Linked DNA regions of Homo sapiens. The protein of the gene in region 2 purifies or fractionates together with the protein of the main gene of each other region. This does not show direct contact. Each region holds a gene or a part of one and is shown on either strand. Other genes may lie near its edges.

Evidence for each region.
Region 1: the proteins of PRAG1 (region 2) and TNS3 purify together in Homo sapiens (affinity purification with mass spectrometry, with the first as the bait; one large-scale study listed by BioGRID). This does not show direct contact.

What each region holds. Positions count from the first base shown.
Region 1 is NC_000007.14:47,571,904-47,575,720, forward strand, and holds part of TNS3 (tensin-3), read right to left. Parts: intron 1-3,817. UniProt on the Homo sapiens protein: May act as a protein phosphatase and/or a lipid phosphatase. Involved in the dissociation of the integrin-tensin-actin complex. EGF activates TNS4 and down-regulates TNS3 which results in capping the tail of ITGB1.
Region 2 is NC_000008.11:8,330,623-8,334,439, forward strand, and holds part of PRAG1 (inactive tyrosine-protein kinase PRAG1), read right to left. Parts: intron 1-3,817. UniProt on the Homo sapiens protein: Catalytically inactive protein kinase that acts as a scaffold protein. Functions as an effector of the small GTPase RND2, which stimulates RhoA activity and inhibits NGF-induced neurite outgrowth.

The DNA.
Region 1 (3,817 bases), on a different chromosome or scaffold from region 2:
ACTAACCCAGTCTGTGAAGAGCTAGCCTGGCAGGAGCCACAGCACCTCCCACTCCTCTCACCGCCAGGGCCCACAGGTCCTGGCAGCCAGCCATCAGGGAGAGGAATGCAACTCCGCAGGGCATGACCACGCAGAGGGGCCACCTCACTGCTAGGTGTGAGGCTGCAGAGACCTCCCCATGGGCTCCGCACAGACAACCAGACACCCGACAAGCTGAGCTGATGTGGAATGGGCATGTTCTAAAAGAAGCAGCACTGACAAACATCTTTTACTCACAAATAGCCCGGCAGCCGAGGGACCATTTGGAGTAAGGCCATCCCTCCAGGGCGTTCTGAGAAGTCACTACAGTCATAAATGGGAGGGTGACACCCAGAGACCGGCAACGGCAACGCCTAGGTCGGGATCCAGGTTTGGGAGAACCATTCGCGCGGTAGTCACACACACACTATGCTTCTCACGCCCACTGCTGCAAACACCTTCGTGGGAAGAGGAAAATGAATGATCGTGTGTTCTGTTATCCTGTGAGAAGAGTGAGCCTTTAAAAAGTGAATAAACACCATTCCAGTTGTCGCAAAATCTCTACTAATAATAAGCAAAATGCCTTAAAAGCACAGTATGCTCTCGATGACCTATGTTTTGGATTATTCCTATTTAATGGAGGTGGGGGTGGGGAGTTAAAGAGCAACACATGATCGGGTGCAGTGGCTAAGGCCTGTAATCCCAGCACTTTGGGAGGCCGAGGCGGGCAGATCGCCTGAGGTCAGGAGTTCGAGACCAGCCTGGCCAACATGGTGAAACACTGTCTCTACTAAAAATACAAAAATTAGCGGGGCGTGGTGGCACACGTCTGTAGTCCCAGCTATGGAGGCTGAGGCAGAAGAATTATTTGAACCCGGGATGGGGAGGTTGCAGTGAGCTGAGATCGTGCCTGGGCGACAGAACGAGACTCCGTCTCAAAAAAAAAAAAAAGAGCAAAACATAGCAACTCTGTGTGTTGCGGGTTACCTGTCTCACTCAAATTTTTCATCAGAATAATCTGGTTACACCTGAATCCTTGCCAGTGGAAAATGAGAAAGGCCTCACAGGGATATGTGGGGAGTTGCCACCAGGGCTGCCCCAGAAATCAAGGGTCACGTGTGGCCCAGGCTTGGGAAAACATTTCTCAAACCACGTGGTCCCAATGCAGGCTGGATCTCCAGAGGTGGGGCCCACCCACCAGTCCTTCCCTCGGAAAGAGACCACGGCCCCAAGGACTGAAGCCCAACCAAGTAACTTAACTATTCATTATGCTAATATGCCCTTTGTTGAGGACCCAGGAGCCAACGCCCTGATACAAGCCAGCAGGGCAATGCCTTCACCCACCTCACGAGCAAGCCTATTCTTCCCTTATGGGCTGTGCTCTTGGAAATTTCTGTGCAGACTCTCTCCACCTCCCACCCTGGGGACACCCTGCCGCCCTCCACGCTGCCTCCCACCAGCCCGCTAGGTCGCTGGGGCATTGGTCTCAAATCTACAAGCGCCATGGAAAGTTGTCCAGGGCTTTGCCACAGTTCTCCGAAAGGGTGAAACACCCTACCTTGTGTCTTTGTATTCTTCTTTGCCTTCTGCAAATCCCCTTTGCTACTCCAGAACACAGCAGGTGGCCCTGCCCAGGGCCTCTGCCCACGCTGCCCCTCCATCGCGACGGGTCCTTCTGCAAAGTCGCCCAGGATTTAGTCCCTCACCTCCCCCAGCCCAGCATCCTCTTGGAAAGAAACACCAGTTGACTCCAGATAGAGCAACCCACCACCCCGTCTCTGGGCCTGCAGGCCTGCCCGGCCAGGGACCTCAAGTAATCCAGAGGAGAAACATTAGGATGAGTCTGCCTCCTCCTTGAGCCCCCAAATCCCACCAATTCTGCAAATGCCCACGTTGGAAAAGATGCCAGTAATTCTGGTTCAACATGTTCCAAGGAGGGGAAAACGACAGCCTGCTGTTGACATTCCTGATTTGGAATTGTGAACACATTCTTAGAGGGTAAAAATTAACCACCATCAGTTGGGGAAGGCATTATGGGGAGGGCATTATGGCTGCACTTCAAGGACTGATCACAAGAACCGCCTCACTCCAACTGCCCAGGGCCTGCATCGACGTTTTAACAGAGCCAAACCAGAGCGAGCCCAGTTCTGGACCGTTCCCTCAGAAAAGCAGCCGAGGAAACCCTGAGTAATTGCACTCATAGATCATAGGCTCTGGCATGTGGTTCCCAGACTGAACCATTTATCCAAATTAAAACCATTCTCCAGAAACAAAATCAGACCCTTTTAATTGAAAATAAAACCAAGCAACCCCGAAGGCTCTTTTTTTTTTAAATGAAAGACATTCTTCCTGCTTTCTCATCCCATTAATCACAGAGTTTACACAATCTGTCAAAATAGCTTGGTAAGAAGTCTCCCTCTTCCTTTTCCTGCAGGCCTGGTTTTTACCCTGGGGGTGATAACCTAGCCATGTTTAAGGACAGCGGGTGGACACCGTGAGAATCCAGCCAGCACCCTATGTCTCAACTGCAATTTGACCATATATACTAAGGAGTTCCAAAAAGCTTGTGCTCACCAAAAAAAAAATGGAAAGCAGGGACTTATACACCCATGTCCATAGCAGCATTATTCACAACAGCCGAAGGGTAGAAGTAACTGAAGTGTATCAACAGATGAATGGATAAACAAAATGTGCTATTCATACAGACACACACACACACACACACACCCCCACACACACGGTATTATTCAGCCTTAAAAAGAGAGAAATCGTGACACATGCTACAACATGGATGAAACCTTGAGTACAGTATTCTAAGTGAAATAAACAAATCACAAAAAATACAAATACTGTATGATTCCACTTGTATGAGGCACCCGATGTAGTCCGTTTCACAGGGACAGAAAGTAGAATGGTGGTTGCCAGGGACTGGGGGGAGGGGAACATGGGGAGTTAGTGCTTAAGGGACACCGAGTTTCAGTTCTGCAAAATGGAAAGAGTTCTGGAGCTGGAGGGTGGTGATGGCTGCACAACGTGAAGGTTCTTAATGTCGCCTAACTGCCGCAGTTAAACATGATTAAAACGACAAAGTTCATGTTATGCATGTTTTACCAAAGCTTAAAAAAAAAGATGTTTGTATTCTTTGATGCCAAAGAGTCTGCTAGAAATCCTTTCAAGAGCATGACTAGCTACGATCTGCCCAAAGACCTATGTGCAAGCATAACACAGGATGTAAATGATCAATGAACAAATAGTGAAGTCCAAATATCATGGTACATCCACATACTGGAGTACTATACTGTCATCAGCAGTCATATTTATGCAGAGCTATTTCTGGATTGGGAAATGCTTATACTGCCACATTGACTTTAAAATGCAGGATACAAAATAATACATATGGTATGATCTCAGCTTGGTAAATTAAAAAAGCACAGAAAACATATGGCACACAAGAAGGCTAAAATATGAACCTCTGTGGAGGTGATATTAGAAGGAATTTTTTCCTTTTTCCTTAGCATTTCTCTATCTTTTCCAAGTCTACAATGAGCACATATTACAAGAAAACTATTTTGTAGAAAAATAGTCAAAAAGCAAATTAAGAAGCAAAGATACGGCCGGGCGCGGTGGCTCACGCCTGTAATCCCAGCACTTTGGGAGGCCGAGGAGGGCGGATCATGAGGTCAGGAGATCGAGACCATTCTGGCTAACATGGTGAAACCCCGTCTCTACTAAAAATACAAAAAATTAGCCGGGCAGCCAGGCGTAGTGGCAGGCGCCTGTAGTCCCAGCTACTTGGGAG
Region 2 (3,817 bases):
AATTTCCCCCTCAATAGTCAGAATGAAGGGCGCAGAAGAAATAGCGAGCCAGAAGAGGGAAGATCTAGATGGCAGTGATCTCAGCAGGTGCTGAAATCCTGCAGTCCACAGGTCTCCCCATCCCACGCTCCCCAGGAAAGCAATGGGGACAGACGGAGGCTAGGGCAGATGATTCACTTCCTCTCCCTCCTCCCTCTAACAGAAGAGGCTGAGAGCAGGAGGAGGATCAGTTGCCACCTCCTGGATAAAAAAAGGAGGGTAAGACCACCTACTTATGAGGCTCTCAAAGGACTGTAAGCCTCAGTCACCAAACTCCCAGCCTGATGAGCAGGAGGACTGGGAGCCGTGAGCACACATCCACTTCCTGACCTTTCTGCATTCTGGGCAGCAGAAACCGTCACCAGCGAGGCGTCTGATTCTCAATTTATCATCAACACAACAGAAGCTGAGGCTGGGAGATGGGAGTGGGGTGTGATCAGAACCCTGGTCAATGCTTTCATCAGTGCCCTCAGAGACAAGGACAACCTGCCTACGGTCAGGATTCCTTCCCATCCCAAGTCCAGTCGGCTAGGGAGGTTCATAACAGATCAGTTTCCTGGTTAGTCTCTTCTTTAAGCCTTAGGCTTATTTCTCCATGTTTATTGATTTTGTCTTCCTTGTCTTTACTACAAGGCTATCCTGATGCCACCAGTATGCCCCTTTCTGCTTCTGCTCCAATTTGAGGGTGAGCAGTGGAGTGAACACTTCACCAGCTGTCAGCCTGCCCTGCCTGAGTTTCCTCCTTTAGAAAATGACCGATGACATCATTGTGAAGGCCCCTTGCAGCACTAATAGTCTATAATTTCAGCTACTCTCTCCATTTTCAACCTCTCTGAACATGCATTTTGTCTCAAAGCTGCCCCTGAAATCAAATAGCTCTAGGCAGATTGTTATCTCGGTTCAATTGTTCTTCCTTCTATGTCTAGTTCACACAAATTACCACTGGTACATTTTCCAATCTGTGAGGAGACCAGGGATCTTTTAGCAACATAATCGGTAACACTTCTAATTCCCTAGATGACCAAAGAGAACCAAGAGGTTCTGCTTTAGACTGTATGGTAGGTCCCAGCACAAAAAACCCTTCGTGTATTCAGGCAGCTGGAAGGAAGTGATTTTGTCCTTCCCTCTGTTTTCTCTTGCTTTCCTGTAGGAGCTGTTAGTCAGTGACTTTGATCAGATCTACACCGTATCACTACTTGGGTAAATCTGACAAGGGGTACTAGGTATTAGCAGAGAAGCTTAACTTCAAGAATTAGCACATGCACTGATTAATTTTTCTTTGTTTCTTAGATGCTATGAGTTTGGGGCACCAAACTCAGTACTCGCCGCATTATACACACACTCATTAGAGGCTAGCACTGCATACCCAAACATTCCCTATCCACGCCCTTGCCCAGCAGAAGTAAAGTCCTGTAGCTACACAAACCTCATCAGGTGAAATACAGCTCCCCTGAAATGTGGACTTCACAGGGATACCTGGGCATTATCTACACATATTACGATTTTTTTTTTTTTTTTTGATGAAGTTTTGCTCTTGTTGCCCAGGCTGGAGTGTAATGGTGGGATCTCGGCTCACTGCAAACTCTGCCTCCTGGGTTCAAGTGATTCTCCTGCATCAGCCTCCCAAGTAGCTGGGATTACAAGCACCCACCATCACGCCCAGCTAATTTTTTGTATTTTTAGTAGAGACGGGGTTTCACCATGTTGGCCAGGCTGGTCTTGAACTTCTGACCTTCAGGTGATCCACCCACCTCGGACTCCTAAAGTGCTGGGATTCCAGGTGTGAGCTACTGTGCCCGGTCTATTATGATTTTTGTATTCAGAAAAGATATGCCTGGTTCTATGACAAGCATACTGCATTCCAACCTAACGCATTCTTCCTCTGAGTTTACGGATCCTTAAAGCTCTCCAGGTGTGGAATTACAGCTGGTGAGAGGTCAGAATTCACTCTTGGAGCCCCCACCCCCACCCCACCACCTCCAGGCCACTCCAGGCCTCCGAGGATCCTATAGTTTCTCAGGTGTTAATACTCTTGGGGATACTTTGAAATAGATGCTAACATGCAGCCCTTGTAGATGAAATTGGTTTCTCCACTACATGGCAAATGGTAGCTGTCTTCTATGGAATCTAAAGGCACTCCTAAAGACCTCCTCTGGCTAATTCTCTTGACTCTTACCTGGGGAACTATCTCTCCATAAACATGGCCTTAGGCAACACAGCATCTATGTTCTTACTGTTTGCAACGGCTGCCACACTCTGGATTAGGCAAGCTGGAAATAACAGGGAACAAATATACCCTGACACCTAAAATACTTCCGAGTTCACAGGCAAACCACTGGTTCAGAAAAGTCTGCCTAAAAAATCCTCCACGACTTTAGCCAACAGCCAATATTCTCCAGACTTGGATCCCAAGGGACATGAGACTAACTCAGACACATCCTGGTTTGATGCTGGTGTTGGATTGCTGTTTCCAAATTCTGCCTTACAATTAAGGGTGCAAAAGGGGTGAGAGGGGAGAACATTTTTCTGGGACCTTGGCCTATGTCTCAGTTGCCTCATTTGTTGGTTTTTAATAATTTTGCATGCTAATTGGGCCAGAGGGCTCCAAACCTCAGGTCCTAAGTTTTCCTTCGAATTTCCAATTCTGCATATAAAGGAAGTTCCTGGCTATAGAGTACAACACGCTCCATGCCTTTAGCGAACGTGCTTCAGGGAAGAGAAAGCATTTCTAGTGAGAAGCTACATATCACGTATGCTGCACTGGATGGGATCTTAAAAAGACCAAGGGAAGGTGCACTAGTTTGGTGTCATTATATTTAGAAAGCAGAGATGAGAAATCAGGATTTCAGTGGTTGGGAAGAACAGCTTAACCTCTCTGCAGAAATGCAGGCCATAAGTTCAAACATGGTACTCTGAGGTTTTCCTTATTATAGAGTCCTCTCTTCTTGCTGGGTTTTAATAGGCACTTTCATTGTTCTCTGCAGCCAAAATGAGAGCTGAGCTGACAGAGGAAGTGGTCAGTCCTGTTTTGGCTCTTTCTTTGCACAGCTCTGCTGTGTGATAGCAGCTGGGTCAGAACAAATGCAGAAGCAAAGGGCAGCGTCCCAACTAAGTCTCCCCAAACGTTTAGCTTTTGTGTTTGACCATTCTCCAACTTTGAGTAAGGTAAAGCAAGTGGAATATGGATGGAGAAAACCTCACCCATACCCTGTGCCCTGGGGCCCTAGTGCAATTCTCTCATGTGAGAGGTGAGAAAACTAAAGCCATCTGCACGGGCACCTTGCCAATATCACCCAGGAAGTGGCTGTCATGCAGGTTTCTGCCAACCCCCATTAACTATTCCTGCATCAGAGAGGATGAAGGGTGGGGCAGAGGGATGCTTTGGCTTCACACGGACTTGTTCCTCTGAAGGCAAGTTTTGCAATCTCTTGTTTGGTTCCACAGTCAGAGCAGGTTCAACATGAAATGTAGAAGAAAAAACAAAAACAAAAAGCAAAGCAGGCCGGGCTCAGTGACTCATGCCTGCAATCCCAGTACTTTGGTGAGCTGAGGCAGGCGGATCACCTGAGGTCTGGAGTTTGAGGGGCCAACATGGTGAAACCCTGTCTCTACTAAAAATACAAAAATTAGCTGGGCATAGTGGTGTGTGCCTGTAATCCCAGCTACTCAGAAGGCTGAGGCACAATAACCACTTGAGCCTGGAAGTGGAGGTTGCAATGAGCTGAGACTGCACCACTGCACTCCAGCCTTGGTGACCGAGTGAGACTCCATCTCAAAA